2 separate regions of the Homo sapiens genome follow, and region 2 is linked to region 1. Evidence: fine-mapped expression QTL. Tissue or cell type: whole blood. Region 1 holds a variant in brackets; the other region holds the start of a gene. All regions are shown on one strand. Distances are between the middles of the regions.

Region 1 (2,681 bases):
TTAAGCTGTTTTTGTGTGTGTGTGGTTTTTTTTTTTGTTTTTTTGTTTGTTTGTTTTTTCTGAGATGGAGTCTGGCTCTGTCGCCCAGGCTGGAGTGCAGAGGCGAGATCTCGGATCACTGCAACCTCTGCCTCCTGGGTTCAAGCAATTCTCTACCTCAGCTTCCTGAGTAGCTGGGATTACAGGCGCCTGCCACCATGCCCAGCTATTTTTTTTCTTTTTTTTTTTTTTTTTGTATTTTTAGTAGAGACGGGGTTTCACCATCTTGGCCAGGCTGGTCTTGAACTCCTGACCTCGTGATCCACCTGCCTTGTCCTCCTAAAGTGCTGGGATTACAGGTGTGAGCCACTGTATCTGGCCTGCTTTCGTTTGTAAAGGCCATATTTTTCTTCTCTTGGGTCTCCAATAACTGTGATGTTAGATCTTTTGTTAAAGTCCCACAAACACCCGAGGTTCTGTTATTTTTTTTAAGTTTATTGTCTCTCCAGGTAATTTCTATTGTTCTGTCTTCAAATTTGAGGAGTCTCCTCTTTTCTTCCATTCTGCTGTTGCCCATTCATTAAAGCTCCTTCCTTTGGTTTTGTATTTCTAGGGTGTAAACTTTCCGTTTAGTTATTCTTTATATTTTCTACTCCTTTCCTGAGACTTCATATTTTTTCATTTGCATGAAGCAGGAGTTTTAGCTGAAGCATGTTTATGGTGGCTGGTTCACCACCTTTGTCATCCCGTCAGATAGTCCAACCCCGGTATCAGTGTCCGTTGTCCGTTGATTGACATTGTTTTGTTGTTGTTGTTGTTGTTGTTTTGTTTTTTTTTTGAGACGGAGTTGCCCAGGCTGGAGTGCAGTGGTGCCATCTCGGCTCACTACAACCTCCGCCTCTGGGGTTCAAGTGATTCTCCTGCCTCAGCCTCCCGAGTAGCTGGGATTACAGGCGGGTGCCACCACGCCTGGCTAATTTTTTGTATTTTTAGTAGAGACGGAGTTTCATCATGTTGGCCAGGCTGGTCTCCAGCTCCTCACCTCAGGTGATCCACCCGCCTCAGCCTCCCAAAGTGCTGGGATTACAGGCGTGAGCCCCCGCGCCTGCGCGCCCGGCCTGATTGACATTTTCAAGCTGGGATTTTCCAGGCTTTGAGAATGACCAGGTCTGCGATGACACTCCCTGGCTGGGAGCAGGAGGGACTCCTGAGACTGCTCCCCTTGTGGACAAAGAGGAAGTTGGGCCGATGGCCGATGACGGCCAGGCCGCGAGGCTGCTGCTGGGCCCTGGGTCACAGGTCGAGGTGTCAGGCCTCTGAGCCTAAAGCTCAACCATTATAACCCCTGTGACCTGCACATATACGTGCAGATGGCCTGCAGGAGCCAAGAAGTCTGAAGAAGC[C/CA]AAAAAAACCACAAAGAAGTATAACAGCCGGTTCCTGCCTTAAGTGATTAACCAACATTACAACATTCTACCACTGTGACTTGTCCCTGCCCTACCTTGGCTGATCAATCGACTTTGTGACATTCTTCTTTTGGACAATAAATCTTATGACCTCCCTACCACATACCTTGTGACCCCCTCCTCTGCTAACAATAGATAACCACCTTTTACTGTAATTTTCCATTACCTACCCAACTCCTACAAAGCAACCCCTTCCCCATCTCCCTTCGCTGACTCCTTTTTCGGACTCAGTCCGCCTGCACCCAGGTGATTAAAAAAGTTTTACTGCTTACACAAAGCCTGTTTGGTGGTCTCTTCTCACAGATGTGCTTGACAGAGGCCGCCCTGCAGTTCCTGTTCCGATCTAAGGAAGGGAAGGGGAGGCGAGGAAGAACTGGGTCCCAAGACAAGAGGGTCCATTTCGTGAGGCACACACTCAGGACAGACCCTACCCCGCTGCTCTACTCTTTCGCTTCAGTCCCTCCTTCCCGGCCTCCGCTGGCCCCCTGACCCCGCACTGATCATTAATGCAGAAGCAGCGCAGACCAGCAGCCGGGATCGCCGGTAATCCCAGCACTTTGGGAGGCGGAGGCGGGCGGATCACCGGAGGTCGGCAGTTCTGAGGTCGGCAGTTCGAGACCAGCCTGACCAACATGGAGAAACCTCTGTCATGAGCCGCTTGCCTCCACCGTGCATGCAGATCTGCAGGGGAGTGGGAAGAGGCAGGTTCTTTGGGTCATTTGAAACGGTTTGGAGATATGCAGAGGCTGGGCTCAATATTAAGTAGGAATTGGGATTTATATTGGCAGCGAAGCGTGGACCCAGGCCCCTTCGGATCCGCACTTGGGCCCCAGAGAGAGGTTGTTCCTTTCCTCCCCGCCTCCCACTCAGGACCACCCATGGCTAATGGTCCCTGACTACAAATTCCACCTGACTGGAGGCTCGGGTTTGAGGTTACACAACTCGCTGAGAAGGGGAGGATAGGGGCTCCCAGATGTCCGGAGACCCCGGCAGGGACTGTGCACCCAGCTGTCTGAATGCCAGAGGCCGGCTCCGCGGGTAGCCATCCCTGCACCACCTCCTCGGGACTAGAGTCACCACAGCCTTTGTTTTTTTGTTTTTGTTTTTGTTTTTGCAGCGCCTGTTTTGAGGATTCTGAGTATTAGGGTGGGAAGCAAGTATTATTACATCAGCCTGGCTAGCTCAGTCGGCAAAGCATGAGACTCTTAATCTCAGGGTCGTGGGCTCGAGCTCCATGTT
Region 2 (2,681 bases), 29 kb before region 1:
TGACAGAGCGAGACTCTGTCTCAAAAAAAAAAAAAAAATATATATATATATATATATATATATATACACACATATATAATATATATTCACAGGCATATAACTGTCTGAACAGTAAAACTGTAAGAACACACTAAAACATGAATAGTACTTATTCCTGGATGGTCGTATTAGAAATGTTTTTTACCTTCATTCATTAAACAAATATTTACTAAGCATCTACCATGTGCCAGGCACAATTCTAGGTGCTTGTCATAGGGCATTAAAAAGTGTCTGCCCTCATGAACACTTATCGTTGAGTCGTGGGAAACACGTATATGTCAGGTAGTGATAAACATTAGGGAGAAAAGTTAACGCCGAGCACAGGTTGTTTACAGAGCTGGGGAAGGCCTCCTTGAGGGGGTGACATATGAGCAGAATGAGGGAGCAAGCCTTGTGGCTATCACGAGAAAGCTATCTTTATGGTTTTCCAATTAATTTTCTAAATTTTCTCTTCCAAGCATGCAACACCTACATAATTAAGACAAAACAAACCAAAAAAACTCTTTCCATTTATGAAAGAGATCTGGAGCCTGAAATCATCTCCGGGTCGAGGCGTGGAGAGAGTGGGAGAGGATCCGAGGGTATGGAAAGGACCCCGAGCCCCCCTGCTCTAGATCCCTCCGGGCCGTGGGACCCCTGACGCCCAGCAGCAACTCGTGGACAAAGCAGCTGGTGAGAGAACGCGGGACTCCGGCCAGGTCAGTGTCCCGCTTGCCGCGTCCTGCTAAGGCGACCCGAAGACAGAGGATCGCCGCAGGAGGCTCCGCGCCCCTTACCCGAGGGCACTTCCCAGCAAGCTCGACGCCTCTCCAGGGAATTGGGAGGAGCGGGACCCAAGAGGCTAGAAAAGAGTCTCCCCGGCCCGAGCTCCACGGCCCGCGGCCTTTCGGCCCTCACCTACTAGTTGGCAAAGAAAGACCGTGGCAGAAGGAAGAGGCCGCTCCAGCGCATCCCTTCGGGCGGAGCAGAAGCTCCACTTGTGGCTAGGCCATGTGCCCTCTCCGTTCCTCGGGCCAGCCTTGGCTTCCCCTTTTTGTCGCTCAAGGGCCAGGGTCGCAAGGAAATGTGAAAAAAAAGCGGAGACAAAAGAGAACGAGGTAAATCTAGATGCAGAGCCTCGCCTTTCCTCCCGGGTGCAGGTGTATGACGCGTATGGAGTTTCTGTCTTCTAATAGGCAGCCTGAGAATTCTTCCTGTTCATTGGCCATCGGTCATGGAGAAGGCGGGCTCAGTGGACGAACGGCTTTCTGGGAGCTGGGGAATGCTTGCGTAGCGTAGTTTCCCAGCGAGCCCCGCGAGGACTTCCGGCGCCGGGAGCTCGCGGCGGAAGTGGGATCTCCTGGGCCGTAGTGGGCGTTGTGTGTTTCGGGGGCGGGGGCGGGGGCGGGGGCCGGGGCGGGGACGGGGCCTCTGGCCGCCTGGCTCCAACATCAAGCACCGGGCTCCGAGTGGCCGGGATCAGCGCCCCGAGGCAGAGGCCGGAGGGCGCGCGCACTGCTAGGAAGTGCTGGTCCCCCGCGCCGCTCTGCCAGCTTGGTCCCCCGGCAGACGCCCCTGTACGATCGCCGCTCGCCCCGCGGGCGAGGCTGCGGTGGACAGCGCGGGGCTCCGGCTGGCTCGCCTTCCCGCCTGCCGTGTCCTGCTGAGCGACCCTGGTGAGTCCTGGCCCTCTTCGAGGAAAGTCTTCTTCGAAGTCACCAGAGGATGAGAATGGTGCGCGCACCTTTCAGGGGTCTTGTGAGGAGCAGAATAAATAAAGTGCTTAGGATGGACTAAAGAATTGGAAACAACCCGAATGCATCACTCGAGTATTGATTAAGAAACTAGAGCATATCCATACCGCGGAAGCTCATAGTGCCGCTAATGTCTGTGCAGTAAGGTCTCATTTATGTAGAAACACATCAAGCACCTTTTCTCCCCGCTATGGATGACTTTTTTAGTAAAAGCACAGGAAAAGGTCTGGGACGTCATTTGTCAGACTGTTAAGTCGGGGGGTACAATGGTATTGAGGAAGGGAGAGTTTTACAGATTTCTATATTGTTTGAATCTTCCCTTTTTTATTAAGATGGTTTGTATTTTTTTCATTTTCTTTTTACTTTTCTTTTCTTTCTTTTTTTTTTTTTTTTGAGATGGTCTCACTCTGTTGCCCAGGCTGGAGTACAGTGGTGCGATCATAGCTCATTGCAACCTCAAACTCCTGGACTCAAGCAATCTTTCCTCCTCAGCCTCCCCAGTAGCTGGGACTACAGGAGCCCCACCTGGCTTTTTTTGTTTTTTGGTACAGATGGCGTCTCACATTGTCTTCCCAAAGGGGTCTTGAACCCCTGGCCTCAAGCAATCATCCTGTGTCTGTCTCCCAAAATGCTGGGATTACAGGCATAAGCCACCAAGCCCGGCCAGTTTGTATTTTTATTGTTGAAACAAAAAATCGATTACTGAAAATTGCATAATACACTTTTCAGTAGAGAGTAACAATGTAAGGTATAAATGTGTCATACATTTATATGTACCTGTGGATAAATGGCTTTGGATGGTGTCTGTAAGCCCTTCTGTGACACCTCAGGGCCAGATGTGTTTTGGAATTCAGAGGTTTTCAAATTTGAGAAAGATAATATAGTGCACAGACGATATATCAAGCACAT

The links. PIP is the estimated chance that this variant, and not a neighbour inherited with it, causes the effect.
Region 2: ZNF213 starts here. The variant in region 1 is fine-mapped to the expression of ZNF213 in whole blood (TOPMed, PIP 0.98).

The regions. Positions count from the first base shown.
Region 1 is chr16:3,162,325-3,165,005 of GRCh38, forward strand. TRK-CTT8-1 (tRNA-Lys (anticodon CTT) 8-1) reads left to right here and starts at 2,614; the gene lies at 2,614-2,681. The variant C/CA (reference allele first, on the strand shown) is at 1,383.
Region 2 is chr16:3,133,694-3,136,374 of GRCh38, forward strand. ZNF213 (zinc finger protein 213) reads left to right here and starts at 1,336. Exons shown (of 6, transcript NM_004220.3): 1 at 1,336-1,694. It overlaps ZNF213-AS1 (ZNF213 antisense RNA 1), which reads right to left and starts at 1,189. Exons shown (of 6, transcript NR_110900.1): 1 at 937-1,189. RefSeq lists enhancers at 917-1,086, 1,097-1,286 and a silencer at 1,397-1,626.